2 separate regions of the Homo sapiens genome follow, and region 1 is linked to region 2. The links come from fine-mapping of genetic effects on gene expression. Tissue or cell type: spleen. Region 2 holds a variant in brackets; the other region holds the start of a gene. All regions are shown on one strand. Distances are between the middles of the regions.

The links. PIP is the estimated chance that this variant, and not a neighbour inherited with it, causes the effect.
Region 1: it holds the start of ASF1A, and the variant in region 2 is fine-mapped to the expression of ASF1A in spleen (GTEx, PIP 0.97).

What each region holds. Positions count from the first base shown.
Region 1 is chr6:118,890,776-118,899,037 of GRCh38, forward strand. It overlaps ASF1A (anti-silencing function 1A histone chaperone), which reads left to right and starts at 3,377. Exons shown (of 4, transcript NM_014034.3): 1 at 3,377-3,747. The coding sequence starts at 3,639. The region is part of intron 8 of MCM9 (minichromosome maintenance 9 homologous recombination repair factor); the gene reads right to left. RefSeq lists silencers at 3,112-3,251, 4,042-4,571 and an enhancer at 3,572-3,661.
Region 2 is chr6:119,022,421-119,030,682 of GRCh38, forward strand. It overlaps FAM184A (family with sequence similarity 184 member A), which reads right to left. Exons shown (of 18, transcript NM_024581.6): 2 at 1,539-2,393; 3 at 525-660. All of the region lies in intron 1 of LOC124901389 (a long non-coding RNA gene), which reads left to right. Among named protein-coding and RNA genes, the nearest start is that of MIR548B, 43 kb to the right of the region's middle. The variant C/T (reference allele first, on the strand shown) is at 3,992.

The DNA of each region.
Region 1 (8,262 bases), 130 kb before region 2:
TTCTAATAAATAAAAAGGAGCCTCTTAAACTAACTAAAGACCATATTAAAACAAGCCTTACATGAGGAATTTTTTTAAGTTGGTAATAATACAAATGAGAAGACAATTCAACACAGTGATTACCCGAGGTGGAAATCTAGATTTGAACAAAAGCTAGAGGTTAGTACTTCCATTCCTATGATAACTTTTGCAGTAGACACGGGCTGACACTCAATTTAATTCCTAGTTCTAATGTATTTTAATTTGGCACATTTTGATTTAATTCAATTTTAGTATATTTGAATTCGCTCTTTCATCTTGTTTTGTGTATGACCTCAATTTGACTTCAAGTTTCACTTCTCTGTAGAGGAGTCTTGAATCCATGCAAGTAAGCTGCATCTTGTGTCTTCAGAATTCAAGCTATATGCCCAGTGGTATATACTTCCTCTGAAGAATGGCAACAGCACACCACTCCACATACGCCACACCCTTACTGGCATGGCTAAAGGACCACATCATTTCACCCACAGGAAGTGCTTGGGAACTGACCAATATTTGGATTCAGTAAGATTAGATGCTCAAATAAGCTTAATTCTGAGGGGAAAAATATCTTATAGCTATATTAGGTTGTTAGAGCTGCCATAACAAAATATCACTCACTGGGTGGCTTAAACAATAGAAATTTACTTTCTCACAGTTCTGGAAGCTAGAAATCCAAGATCAAGGTGTTGGCAGGTTTGGTTTATTCTAAAGCCTCTTTGCTTGGCTTGCAAATGGCCACCTTTTTGCTGTGTTTCCTCTGTGTGCGTGTGACCCTTGTGCTTCTCTGTAAATCTAAATTTCCCCTTGTGAGGACGCCAGCTAGATTAGATTAGGGCCCACCCCAATCACCTCATTTAACTTAATCTCCAAATACAGTCACATTCTGAGGTACTAGGGATTAGTGCTTCAACATACGAATTTGGGGGAGACATAATTCAGTCTAAAACAACAACTAACTAGTTTCATGTATTTCTGCCCTAAGCACTAGTTTAGGCTTTGTTCTGTTCATCTTAGAGCCGATAAAATCTCTCTCAGCCATCCTTCCCCCAAGTAACCCATAGTGAGAAGTGATTGGGGGATTACATTCCATGCAGCCCTCCAAACATTATGTGGGACCCCCTTGGGTACTTAATAAAGACATTCACAGTGACCCATCTGTTGTACAATTAGATGTTTGGGAGTCACCAAAGTTGTTCAGCAACAAGTCCTACTGATTGCCTCTGAAACCAGAGAGAGGCTTTCACAATTCTTTTTTTCCTACAGCATACCAGTTAAATTAGAAATATGCCAGGACATATCTGAGGAATCCTTTCGGTCTCTCCTGGAGTAAGGTAGTATCAATGGTGAGGAAACTATTGAACAAAGTGCTCAACGACCCTTTAGTATTTCTGACAAGCAATAATACAAGAGTTAAGACAGGAGAAGCCTGGAGCTAATTCTTGCAGCTTCCAGTGAAATGTTGGGGAGTTTTTTCTTCTTAAATACTGTTGCATATGATGTGTTAAACAAAAAATTTTAAAGAAAATAAGCCAAATTAGTGGCATTCAGGTAGATCTTCTCAGTCCTTCATGCTGCACATCCACCAAAAGTGAGTTTTACAACTAGTCTCATTGTAACACTTACGGTCAGACTGCAAAATGCACGTGATTTTAACAAGCATAAAATGTCGTTTTCATGAGACTGACTAGACTCTCCTCTTAAGAGTACCTGTAATAATCAGACAACTGCATACACCAGTCTCACAGGAGTTTTAATCTTCAAATGGTCATTTTATCTTACATATACAGAGTGTCTTACAGCATACAGCAATTTCCACTTTATCTGCTAGTGTTAGGACCAGCACTAATAAGAATGAAGAGTATGTTGTTTATCAGCCACAAAAATCTGTGTCTATCACCATGGTTTGACTCTTAATACTCTAATGTCACAAACAACTGGCTTGAAGAAGTGTTTTTTGGTAGGTCCTATATCTAACTGTTCAATCCACTGACAAAAAAAGGGAACTCTTCCCCACTCTAACCGGTTTTCCTAAATGTACGAGGGGTTGACATTAGCTGTCTCACATTAACTTTCAAAAGACCATCAGATGAAAACGTTTCATCAAAAGCCACCTACTTAAGTATGAACAATGACCAAAGAATGACAAATCAAAATTCTGGGCACTATACTAAGAGAAAACTCTTCCAGAACACATACTTAAGAATTAATTTTCTCTCTGAATTTGGCCAAGTTTGGTGGTTTCATTCACAACATTTAAGGAAAAAAATGATGGTTTATGGCTAGCAGATAATAAAACAAACCTTTATACCACTTACTAAATAGAAACGGTTTAGGCTCACAAATATGTTAAAGCTTTCTCTTTCCCCGCAATGGTAGCCAAGCAGCATAAACGAATCAACATTTCCTCAGTTCAGACCTCAACTGGTTACAGGCAAGCAAGGGCTCCTCAGAATTTGCTTTACTAACGGTTTAGGTCAGAAATTTTTTTGAAGATCAAATGTCTTGCTATGTCTTTGTGTTCTTTTTCCCATCTCTATTACGTTTGTTGCCCTGTTGGTCTCCTAACACTTCCATTTTCTCCTTTTATGTTCCTGCTATGCTCTCCAAATGGCAGTAACCTGAAGTATAACTGATCACACCTCTTGTGATTTTTTTTTATTCTAGGACTTCCCAGATCTGGACTCCGAAGAAGACGCCCAGGTGCAAGCCCAAAGGTTACCTATTTAAATTTTCCAAGCACAGTGTGTAGAAAATCATTCCTCGCCCTTCATTTTGTGTTGCTTAACGGCGCTGTCGTGCCTAAACGTAGATACTGGCCAAGAGCTAGATTTCCAAAATGGCTTTGCTCCTTTCGAGCTGACATCGGTCTATAACATGCAATTTATTTCCCCTGCAGCCAATCTTTCTCTCTACTCCAAATACTACCCGATACGCAGAAAGCTGAACCTAACCCAGTGTAAACACCGACTCTCATCTGCTAAATTCAGCAAGGCCGGCAAAGCTGTTGCACTGATGTAAAAAGAGCGTTAAATCAAAAAACCAAAAAAACAAAAAAAAAAACAAAAAAACGCCAAAACACCCACACGAAGCCAACTGGAGGGGCGGGCGTCGGCCGGATCGCGCCCTCCCGCCGCAGCCACGCCTCCCCGCCGCGGCCACGCCCCCTCCGCCCCTCTCCGCGCCGCCGCCGGCGGCCTCCGCGCGGGCCTCCCAGCCCTTATTCCACTCACTTTGTTCTCCGCCTTTGTCCTAATCCACACCAGCAGGTGGAGCCGCAGTTAAAGTTTCCGAGTCCATTCCGGGAGCGGGAGCCCATCTTGCTGGCTGCCGAGGCCCTCGCTGGAGGAGGAGGGTCAGAACTCGGGTGCAGCCAATCGAGGGCAACGCTGCTACTTATCAGAGCAGAATGGGCTGTAGTTTAGTGAAATAGGAAAGCTGCAAAACACTGTGGAGTGCTCCCGTGTAAATAAAAAGAGGAAAAAAGTTTCTCAAGTCGCCGCTGCACGACGTCTGGCCGGCGCTGGAGCGGGGGTCTGCGCTCTCCCGAGCGGCCGCGCGCTGGACTTTATTGTGCCGCAACCAGCCCCAGTTCCCATTGTTTGTGTTTTTTTCAAAATATGGCAAAGGTTCAGGTGAACAATGTAGTGGTGCTGGATAACCCTTCTCCTTTCTACAACCCGTTCCAGTTCGAGATCACCTTCGAGTGCATCGAGGACCTGTCTGAAGGTGAGTGCGGCGCCCGTGCGCCCGGGCTGTCAGTTGCGGGCTGCAGACGTTGAAAGTTTCCCGGGCCGGGCCTCGCGCTGGGCGGCTGTGTTCGGCGCCTGGCGGCCGCGGGCTGCTCTGCGGAGGGAAACTTGAAGTTGATGGACGACGGCCGCCGAGGCGCGCGCGGCTTTCCGCCGCAGCCCAGGCGCCTGCCGGGCTCAACTTGCGAGGAACTTGTTTGAGCGGAGGAGCGGAGGTAGCCATGTTGTCAGCTTTGTCTGCGGGCGGGCAGCTCGGAGACCCGCACTCGCTCCCGCTGCGCCGCCTGAGGTCGCGCCGGGCTGGCTCCGCGCCGCCAACAGCCTCCGCGACCCTCCGGGCCCGAGCACGGAGGCTGGGAAGGGAGAGGCTGTGCGTGTGGTCGCGCCGGCGAGTTCGGAGCGGAGCCATCTTACCCCGAGTCGAGAATTGGGCCAGCGACCCCGGCGCACGGCGCCTCCTCTTGCCCCGCCGCCCGCCTGCCCCCGGCGAAAGGCAGGCAGGCACTCTCGAGAGCTCACGGTGGAGTCGCCGCACTCTCCGGGCTGGCCATGCCTGGCCGCTTCGGGGAGGAGAGCGAGGCTGTCCTCGCGCTGATTTCTGGCTTCCTCGACCAACCAGCGGGGGAGGCGGGCGCAGGCTCGGCCCCTCCGCGCCGCGGGCTGGGCGCCGGCGCTCCCCGGGGGCCGTGGGTCCTGTTCGGCCGGTCCTCCTCGGCCGGCGCCCGGGATGCGCCGGGATGCTGGCGCGCAGGCTCCCCAACCAACGTGGACTCCTTTCCCCTAATGACGAAAAGCTAATTTCAGGAAGAGAAATAGAGCTGAGGTAGGAAGTTACATTTAACCTAAAAGCAGAAATAAGATACTTAAATAATTTCCAGGACTTAATCTCTGCCTTATAAATAGTCTGAAGGAAGACTTTCTTCAAGACCGTGTTGAAATCTAAAATAACTCCACATCCAAATACAGAACACACCCTAAACATAAAACACAAACGTAGGCTAGGAAATTAAGGTCAACTCCTCATGTCAGTCCAAGAATTCTTGGTATTTTTTCTACATATATTTTAAGGTCTTAAAAATACGTATTTTTAATATCTTTAGTAATAAATATTTAGAAAGCTAAAACGACAATTATCTTTGCTTTAATTATCTTTTACTAAAGTAATTCAGTGCTTCATTTGCCAGTTTTGAAGGGGAAATAGTTTAACTTCATCGATGAGGGACATACTTTGAACTAGAAGTATATGTAAAAAATGCATTGAAGATGATTTAGGTAATCGTGGCATGTAAAACTTTTCATTTTAAAAACTAGTTTTTAATCTCTAAAATGTATATATCATATGTAAGGTTAATTTTAATTATAAAACAATATATATTCATTGTAATAAACTTTTAGAAAGTTGTACAGGCATATATAAAGTTAACAGTTCTCTGTACTCAGTGCCTTGCCCTATCTCCTTTCGGTAATCACAATTATTACTTTAACATGTGCCCCCGTTTTTTTTTTTTTTTTAAACCTATATAGAGCATAAATGCACATACATATATAGGGCAAATTTTGAAAGATGATTCATTTATTAAAATAATTTCAAATAGGCCATTGATAACACTAAGGGGTATTTTTCTTATTACTCTGAAGTCATTTGATTACTCTCCTATGATACTACTATTAATATAAGCATTGCAGCTACCAGGCCCATTTTTCACACCCAACAGTAATTTTTTTTTTATTGCCAACTGCATATAAAAATAGACAAAAGAAAAACCATTGATCGGTCCATTCCAACTTATACCACACTGTTTTTCAGATATACCACCAGAAGTTCTTCAAATTACAGGTATTTCTCAAGTGTTGCCTTCCATTTTAGGAGTCAGCTCTGAACAAAGAAGATAGATGACTCAGGATGTCGTTACAGGGCTTTTACATTGCATAGATGAAACCAGCCATTCATAAAGCCAAAACGTTCCATTTTTAACTGGGATCCATTCAGAACCCAGCTGAATCACATCAGGGATTTACAGTACTGGTGTCAAAAACATACTTATTTCCAATGGTATATTTCACTTCCTAGGCACCATTACTGAGCATTTATTTAGTATTTTAAAAAATATTTTAAGCTGAGTCATACTGAAGCTGCAAAGGAATCTTTCAAAAAGGTGCCATGCCTGTATACTCCACCTAGAGGCTATGTGGATTAAGGAAATTTTTACTTAGCAAAGGCTTCTAATAGGTTCCATACTTTTATATTACAGTTCTTTTAAAAATTCTGTTCTTAAAATTAAACTATAGAATTTTTTTTTTTTTAAATGAGACAGTGTTGCTCTGGCACTCAGGCTGGATGGAGTACAGTGGTGCAAACACAGCTGCTCCCTGCAGCCTCAACCTGGGCTTAAGCAATCCTCCCACCTTAGCCTCCTGAATAGCTGGGACCATAGTCGATGTGCCACCACATTGGGCTAATTTTTTAATTTTTTGTAGAGACGGAGTTTTGCCATGTTGCCCAAGCTGGTCTCGAACCCCTGGGCTCAAGCAGTCCTCCCACCCCTGCCTCCCATAGTGTTGTGATTATAGTGAGCCCACTGCACCCAGCCCAAACTATAGAATATTTTGAAAAGAATTTTCTTAATAAGTTATTTTGCCTCAAGTCTCAAAGCAGAGTTTGGCCACCGTTTTTCATACTTTCATCAGTAGCCCCAAACGTTCACTTTCCTTTAAGAGCTGCCCTGTAGCTTTGCTTCAGAAAAAGCCTTGAGGAATATTTGGTCTTAAGATAATTTGGTTCTTTCTAATATAGGGCTTATATCAAGGGTTAAGACAGCCTGAGACCCTGGCTGGATGTGCTTGATGGTCACCAAGACTGTACAAGTTTTGATTGACCATCCTGCCATTCTTAAATTTATATATATATATATCTTAATTACAGCTACTGTCAATTGAATACTTATAATATACCAGAATTGAGCATGGTGCTTCATACTTTCCAACTTCAGCTTGTTCTAATTCCAAAGCCTACATACTTTCCACTAGACCACAGGTCTTCCCAAGTAGTGTAATTAGCTAAAAATTCTCTTGATGACTTCCCTCATTCACTCACTCTTTCACCACAAATGTAAATACTTTCAGGCTGGGTAAATCATTTAATCATGATTACTGTGATTAAATAAAAGTTAACTTTAAAATAAATGAACAAATTTCTTCACCTGAGAACTTATGTAAAACATCTGACCTTACCCTTCCTCCCTCAAATACAGGGGGCAGAGGAATTAAATGAAAGCTGGGTTAAAAAAAAAAACAACAAAAAAACTGATGCCAATGTATAAAAGGGTATTGAGCATGTAAAACTCAGCAACTGTAGCAAGCATCCCATAAACATAAAAATCAATGTACAAGTGTTCCCTGAGTTGCAGCCTGTTCTTGTTAAGGCTAGATTCTCTCTCCATCTCCTCTGCTCTCACTTCCCCTGCAAATAAATTCCCTTATTCCACTGCTAATTTCAGAGCTAGAAAGAATTTATCTTCCCAGTTAGGTTTTCAGAAGAAGCCCGGGGTTTGTAGTTACAGAGGCATAGCTTGGATTCTGATTCTTTGATGTACAAATTATGAATTTGTGTAGATTACTTAACCTCTCAGAGTCTCAAGTTATTTGCATAATGGGGATAATTTGATCTACATGATGAAGCTGTTGAGGTTTAAACAATAGGTATGAAGTAGAACTAATGCCCAGTATATAGTAGGTATTTTCTAAAATAGGTTTATAAATTATGGCTATGTTCCTATGCCAGTCCACAAATGCGAATTTATACCACTTAGGATCAAGGGCATTATATGTAGTGATACAATTATATATGAAATTAAAATTCATGAAAACCTTTATGTAATAATTTTTTTTTTTTTTTTTTGGAGACAATCTCGTTCCATTGCCCAGGCTGGAGTGCAGTGGCGCGATCTCGGCTCACTGCAACCTCCGCCTCCAGGGTTCAGGCGATTCTTGTGCCTCAGCCTCCCGAGTAGCTGGGACCACAGGCATGTGCCACCCCTAATTTTTGTACTTTTAGTAGAGATGGGGTTTCACCATGTTTGCCAGGCTGGTCTCGAACTCCTGACCTCAAGCCATCCAGCCACCTTAGCCTCCCACAATGCTGGGATTACAGGCGTGAGCCACTGCGCCCAGCCACTCTATGTGATAATTCTTAGTCTTATCCTCACTTGGCTAGTTTAGTACCTTTCACATCACTTTCTTAAAACAGTTTCTTCACTTGGCTTTTGGGTCACCTACCTCATTTGCCACTTGTTTTGTAACTTAATTTGTCCTCTTATCTTTGGAGGGCTCAAATCTCACTCCCTAGAGCAAGCCCATGTATTTTTATGGCTTTACATATCATTGACAGGTTCCAAATTTTTATCCTGCCTATTCAGTATCTCTGCTTAGAAGCAGACATCTCAAATATGTCTAAAATGAACTCCTGATTGCTCCCCTACCCCACATCACCTCC
Region 2 (8,262 bases):
AGGAAAACTCTCAAGTTTTCTATAAAAATATATTCCTAAAAATAAAAAATATTTGTGTATCTTATAAGTAATTAGTAACATATTGAGTCCTTTAACTTATTTACAGTCTAAATAGTTTTAAAATGTTAGAAGAAAAAATAAATGCTACCTTAAATTAACATTTAAGTGTTGGGGCCGAGCGTGGTGGCTCATGCCTGTAATCCCAGCACTTTGGGAGGCTGAGGCAGGGAGACTGCCTGAGCTCAGGAGTTCGAGACCAGCCTGGGCAACACGGTGAAACTCCATCTCTACTAAAAATACAAAAAAATTAGCCAAGCATGGTGGCGGGCACCTGTAGTCCCAGCTACTCAGGAAGCTGAGGCAGGAGAATTGCTTGAACCCAGGAGGCAGAGGTTGCAATGAGCCGAGATTGAGCCACTGCACTCCCGTCTGGGCGACAGAGCAAGACTCTGTCTCCAAAAAAATAAATAAATAAAGTGTTGATTTTAGCTAAGCATTACATCAAAAACTGTGGTCACACATACTAGCTTTGAGGACAAGATCTGAAGCTTGCTGTTGTAAACGTTCTCTGGCAGCTGCTAGCTCACTTTCCACTTCTTTGTGCTTGCTTAATAGGGCCATTTCTCCCTCCTTGGCATCATCAAGCTGTTTTTGAAGAACCTAAGAAAGATTAAATAGCCATTGTTAAAATGCAGGAATAATACTAAGCTAAATAATTCATTTAAATTATAAGGGTCAGCTTTCTCTTATTCAGAAGTCATACTAAACTATATACCAATTTTTAAATCTGTAAGTATTAGTGATTTATAACTTGATGTTTTCATAAACATGACCCAATCAGGAAAGGCTATTCCACACTTTCTAATCCATTCTAATGTTGCACAGATATTAAAAACATGGCTATGAAATTTTCTAAGCCAACAAAACAAAACTTGTGGACTTCCGGCATTTTTTTCCCCCAGACTTGTGCAATACCCCTATTAAATTCAGGTTTAGAAAGCAAGCAATTTCTTGATCAAATTCTAAATATCAGCTAGCAGGCAAACCATTATTAGTGAAAGGAAAAGAAAAAAATGTATTTAAACTTTAAGCCCAATATTAAAATCCTTTTGTAAATAATTAGCAATATTGTCCGCCCCCCCCCCCAGGAACAGCGTATTACCTCGCTAAGCTCACTCACCCAGGCTGGTTTCTAACACCTGGCCTGAAGCGATCCTCCTGCCTGGGCCCCCCAAAGTGCTGGGATTACAGGTGTGTACCACTGTGCCTAGCCAATAATTAGACAAGGTTTTAAGCTTGTCTTTTTGGGCCCCTAATATCTGAAAGTCTGAAATAACAACTACAGGGTAATACAAATTATCCTGTCATTGATTTTTCTCACAAAGGAAAAGCAGGAAAAGTTAAAAAAAAAAAAAAAAAAAAGTCTAAGTGGTGTGAAGCCACTGATTCTAAGTGGGCCAGACTGCTCTCCAGCCTACAAAACAAATATTTTTAAAAGAAAAAAAATCCATGTGTTGAATATAATATTCTTTACTTACCTGAACATTGTTCTCTGCTATGGCAAGTGCCGTCTGAAGCTTTTGGCATTTGTCAAGAAGACTTCCAGCTTCATCCTGTACCATCTGTAACTCTGTCTTTAATTTTCCTATAGTTTTTCGTAAAATTGCTTCTTGTCCCTGAAATTCTTTTCTAAGATCAGCTTCCTTTTCTTTGCTGGCCTGTAGGCTTTCTGCTGTAAAAAGCTGTGACCTTTTCAAAGTATCAAGCTCACGTTCATAAAAGGACTGAGCTTTATTCAACTTGCCTTCATAATCCTCAATTAGTTTCTTCCGTTCAAGTCTTAGCTCCTCAAGCATTTTGTTTAGGGACTCCACCTCCATTCTGTGTAGTTCCTCTGCCTTTTCCTGGCCTTTATTTACTGAGGCACTGTGATCCTGCTGTGACTTCAATAGCTCTTGTATCTCCCGTCTGTGAGCAGCTTGCAAGTCTTCCAATGCCAATCGTTTGTCTTTTTCAAACTGTACTTGAAGTTGTCCAAAGCTCCGTAATTTTTCTTCAAATTTCCTTCTAATCTCTTCGACTTCTCTAGACATGGTCACTATGCGTTGGACATGCTGGGCTTCTGCACAAAGTTGCATGTCCTCAACTCTGTGCTTATAAGCTTCAAATTCTGTCAAAGCCTGCTGCTTCATTTTTATGTGATCTTCTAATGATGATTCTAAAACTTGAATCTTTCTTCTAAGGTCTAGCTCCTCTGTTACTTTGCTTTTATACTGCAATATTTTTTCTCTTGTTTCAGCAAGAATTTGTTGAATTTCTTCTTCATGAGCATCTTTGAGGGCTTGAATTGCAGATTCATGCTCATCATTTTTAGTGTTTAAAGCATATATTACCTGCATGGTTTTGAATAAGAAGGGAGAAGGATTGTGAATCCATATTATTTTCTAACTTGAAGTCAATTCTTTCATTTGGATTGATATTTTTCTATGCACATAATATTGGCTACAGCTAATGTTAAATATGGAATCTTGATGCAATTGTTTTTTTACTCATAGATTGATTTGCTTAGCAAATTTCTATCTTAGCACAGTCTTAAGATTTGTATTTAAAGACTTTTTAGTTATAATTTTAAAACATTCAAATTTAAGACTATTTTTTACTACAAATGAAACAGCAAAGAGGAAATGGACAAAGGAGGCAATTGGCCTAAGAGAAAGGAGTTCTCATATGTCCCAATCTAGCTTACCGGGGACTGTGAAGGGGTGTTCAGGAGAAAAAGTCTCATAGTAAGACTCTGCCCTATATTGGTGTCCTAGAGATACGAGAGGCTTCACATGAAGAGAAGCCCTAGGCCCTAAGTCTTCCCAAAAGCCTTTTATCTTTGTAATGGCCTGTTTAAATATTTCAAATTTTAAACTTTCCTTTCCCAATTCCCCTATAGTTTGCTTCTAAAGCTGATCCTCTTCTCTCTTCAAGTTTCTAGTGATCTCTTTATAAAATCCAATTTGTACTTTTTCTCTTCATATTTCAAATGCTGTAGTTTTACTCTTTGGCTAATTTTCTCTCTGCCTCCAAGCAACCCAATTCCTTAAGCCAGAGTTTTGAGTACAGGTCTTTATTTTCATTTTAGTTCCTAGGTTTTAATGATTTCACTGAGATGTCCCAACCTTAATTTCAAATGACAACAAATTCCCTGCACAGTAACACTCTCCTTCCTTCCCTCTGTTCCTCGGATGCCATCCATCATGCCACTGTGGTCACACGGTGAAATTTTCATGACTGTTATTTAAGGCTTTGAGATGAGCCCACTTTCTTCCCCCGGAAGCGAAAAGAAGTAAACACTGTACAATCAAAAAATCCAGCAGCTAAAAATCAGTGTCTGGAGATTTGCTCATTTTAATGTGATATTACTCTGGCTTTAGAAATGAATTCCAGCATCAGATACCAGAAACTGCAGTTATGATGGAAAACTGCTGCCATTTTTTGTAGAGAAATTATTCATGCAGCCTGAGGTAACTGTGGCAGACTGGCTGGCTCTCCAAATACCACAGTAACTCCAGATCCCACTCGCTAAAGATAGGCTGTCACTGTCTGGGACAGCAGTTGTGCTTGCAAAAGAAACAAGAAGGCTGCCTCAACACAGGGGCATCACTTTCTCCACATAGGGCTTTGTCTTCCAGATCCAGTGGCCCTGTCCATATACTCGCTTAGTCTGCCATCATACCAAAGGTAAAAAGATTGAGAGATGGCAGGAACCCATCTGTCTTGCCATGCTATCCCTTTTTGCAAAGTCTACAGGAAAAAATGTGAACAGAAGTACTTATTCACATTCTGTTTTTAAAAAACCCTAATTTCAAATTCCAAATTATGTTCCCAATAAGGTAACACAGATCCCAAGCAGGACTCCTTCATTTACACATTTACTCATAAAGGTAGCTTATAAGCCAAGAAAGCTGACTGACTTCCTATTCCCATCCCCTTGGGTCATATC[C/T]GCCCACCAAGTCAAATGGCCATAAAAGACTGAAAGGATCTGTGATATAACAAGTGTACCAAAAATATAATTCTAAGCCCCCAACCGATTGAACGGACCCTCCTCTTAGCCAAGTGGACCCCAAAGAAACCTGAAAAAATAGTTTAGGCCATGACTGAAAGGGAGGGGTCAGACATGCCTCATTATGGATTGGACATGCTGGGCTTTTCTGCACTCTATACTTCGGGATTTAGACACAACTGACCGACGTTAACATTAAAACAGAGATCATAAGACTGACAAAACAGACTCTTCATAGCAATAAAATACCAAATTCCAAACAACATCATGTGATACTATACCAAGAGTCAGGTTGGAGTTTGGTATTTTATTGCAAGCCCTGAAGAAAATCAAAGTATTTTACCCTAAAATTTTTTTGTTTGACATTCCATATTCTGAAATGCCCCTGTAAAGCTGCCTCCTGTAAAGTAAATTTGCATTCTGTAGAGAATCTCCTTCCCATACTCGGTCTTCTCCAGAGAGCATGACACCTTTTAAGGTCTGATAAGAGATATTTACCATCTATTCTCTCTGAAGCCTGCTACCTGGAGGCCTCATCTACATGACAAGAACCTTGGCGTCCACAACCCCCTTATCTAACTAAACTCAAGCATTTCTTTATGCTGAATTCAACTCTTTAGTCAGGGCTTACCTCTTTCAACCAATTGCCAATCAGGAAATCTCTGAATCCACCTATGACCTAAAACCTCCCTCACGCCCACCTAGAGATGTCCCACTTTCCAGGCTGAACATTACACATACTGATTTATGTCTTTGCCTGTAACTTCTGTCTCCCTACAATGTATAAACCAAGTTGTAACCAAACCACCTTGCGCATATGTTCTCAAGATTCCCTGAGGCTGTGTCACAGACCATGGTCTTTAAGTTTGGCAAAATAAACCTCTAAATTGACTGAGACCTGTCTCACATACTTTTTGGTTTACATAAGAAATATATATTTGGTCTCTTCCCCCAGTTCCTGACATAGAGCTCCTAAGACTTTTGTAATTTCCTGTGCGATAGGATCATTGGACACAGTGAAATATAGCAGGGACCCCACCTCTCCTTTTAGGGACCTGCAAACCCCCAAACATGGAAATAAAGGAAAACCCCAAAGTTCCTTTAAGAAACATTCCAGGCATCTAGCTAGCCCCGGAGGTAATTCAGTAACTTGTTAAACGAAAAGGTAGCAGAACAATAGCCAAGGAAGTTAAAGCTCCAGAGATGTTTGCTTTTCCTACAGAAACTAAAGATAACATCCTAACATACATCCTTGAGTTGTCTTTTAGAGGCTTGAAACCCCACTGAATGGATCTGCTGGCATACAGACTCCAGATAAGGGGGAAATGAAGACTAAATTTTAGCTATTACCCTTTGTTTTATTAGTAAGTTTCTTCCTGAGGAACTTAGAGAAAGTCATTCCCTCTAGCAAGTCAGCATTTTTCTACTGAACTTAAATGTTTTAAACAAAGCTTCCCTTCCTTAATCAACTGCAAATCCGAAGAGTTCTGAATCTACCTACCATCTGTGAGTGCCCCCCACTTCAAATGTCCTGCCCTTTTAAGCTTAAGCCAATGTGTAACCTCCTTGTATTGATTTATGATTTTGCCTGTAGCTTCTGCTTTCTTGAAATTTACCCCTGCCTTTAAAAATCCTTGCCTGCAAGCCTAAAAATCCTTGCCTGCAAGCCATCAGGGAGGCCAGATTTGAGCATTTAGCTGGCTGGTCCCCCCCTGCTTAGCACTCTGCAATAGGCAACTTTCTGTCACTGCAAAAACCTTGATGTGTGTTTTCACTGTGCCAGTTGAGCAGACTCCAGTTCTGTTCTTTAACAGCAGAGCTCCTAAATCCCTTGGAATCTCTTGCGGGATAGGAGCATCTTTTGTTCTAATGACATGACTCCTAGTGGGCTCTTGGGAAGGCCTCAGGATTGGGGCTGGCTGCCAGAGGAACCCATCATGTGACTATACAGTTGGAACTTCCAGCCCCATACAGGGTCCTCTAGGGAGGAGACAAGGTCGGAGAGTTGAGTTGATCACCAACAACCAATGATTTAATCAACCATGCCTACACAGCGGAGCCTTCATAAAAACACAAAAGTCAAGTTTCCAGATTTCTGAACACGTGGAGGTGCTGGGAGGGTGGCATGCCTGGAAAATGCAAAGAAACTCCACATTCCTTCCCACAGACCCTGCCCTATGCATCTCTTCCCTCTAACTAACTTCTTCTGTACCCTATAAATGGGGGTAAACATGTTTTTCTGAGTTCTGAGAGCCATTCTAGCAAATTAATCCAACCCAAGGGAGGGTAGTGTGAACCCTCTACTTACTTTTTTGCCAGAAGAACTTGCAGTTGGCATCTGAATGAGGGCAGTCTTGTGGGATTGAGCCTTTAACCTGTGGAATCTGATGCTATCTTCAGGCAGATAGTGTCAGAAATGAACTGAATTATAGTATACTCATTTGGTGTCCACTAGAGAACTGGTTGTTGGGAGAGAAAATCCACACACATTTTGGTGACCAGAGGTGAGGTGTTATGTGTTCTATCCAGTGTAAGGGTAGGAAAACCTGTTTTTTCCTATCTCATATAGGGACACTAAGGAAAAACAAGCCAACCAGCCAGAGAGAAGCCCATTTGCTAGAGTGCCTAGAGCAACACTGGTATAGGCCACAGGCTTCAGGCCTTTCCAAGGCTGGTCAGTCCTAGCCACAAGGAAGGAAAAGAGAATTCAACGAGGTAAAATCCAAAGAGAGAACTAAGTCACATCATTAGCATTCTGTGCATTCTGTTCCAGGAAATGATCTGGGAAAGAACCAGTCCCTGGTGGAATTCATATTTTGGGGATGAAATGAGGGAAGGAGGAAATATGTGAGTTTCCCCTTGTCGACAATTTATTGAAATAATCTTCTCTTTTTTCTAATATTAAATTTCCCTCGAAGCTTTGATGAATCAGTTCCAGTCCTGCCTCCTTTAATGAGTCTTCCATGACCACCCAAATCCATAAGAGTCTATCTTTTCTTTATATCTAGAACCTCCATTGCCTTACCTCACTCACTCCTGATTGTCAGTAAATATATAATTAAATTTGGAGGAGTCTTGATAAGGTTGGAAAGATGTATGAGGATATTAGAGACCCTAAAAAGAAGCTGAAGATATAAAAGCACGGTAGCAATCAAAAAGGTGAAATTTAAAAAGAAAAATGTACAAATTAAAGCATTAAGTTAGAATAGGATTTAAGTAAACAAAACATGGCAAATAATTTAAAAAATATTATAGTGAGGAGCTTTTATTTCACTTGACATTCTAATGCAGGAGTTAGCAAACTACAACCTGTAGGCCAAATATGGCTGCTGCTTGTCTTTGTATTAATAAATAAAATATTATTGGAGCACAGTTATGTCCACTTGTTTATGTATTGCCTATAGCTGCTTTCCCACTATGACAGCAAAGTTGAGTAGTTGTGGAAAACACCTTATTACAAACTCCTGTTCTAATCTATACATAGAAAAGCCATCTTATCAGCCAAAATTGGCAGCCACAAATAAAAAATAATAAAAGATCTAAATTTGCAATAGCTTGGTTTACTCCCTATTAAATAGTACAGGGTTCTTTCCACTACCACTCATACACTGAGAAAACCAATTAAGAGATTCTGGAAGCATATTTTATAAAAGAATATATATTCATGCTGACCATATATTGGTATTTCCCAAGGAAAGCCATGTTAAATAAGTTTCTAAAAACTTAAAAAGAAATAACAAAATGAAGCCAAACATAATAACAAATTAATACTGCTTTCATTAGTGATCACTTGAAATACACCACTACTAACTTATTTTTAAGTAAGAATGCTACATATGAATTTTCAAGTTGAGCTTAACTGGATATAGTATCCTCTAATTGTTCATTTTTCTATGTAATTATAAAGGTAACTATTTATTAGTGTCCTTCTCTGAACACTATTTTTCAGATCAAGGTAATATAAAAATTCCCTATGTTCTTTGAACATACAGAAGATATAACAAAGGTTTGACACTAGATAAAATCACTTAATTTCTTCAAGCTTTGAGTTTCTCAAATATTAAATAAAGATCATATTATCTACCTTAGCAGCACCATTGATATAAGATCAACTGATCACTGAAATTTCAAAAATTGATGTTATGTAACTATTTAAAAATATATATGTAAGGCACTAAAACATGGTAAGACTTCCTTATTAGTTGTATTAT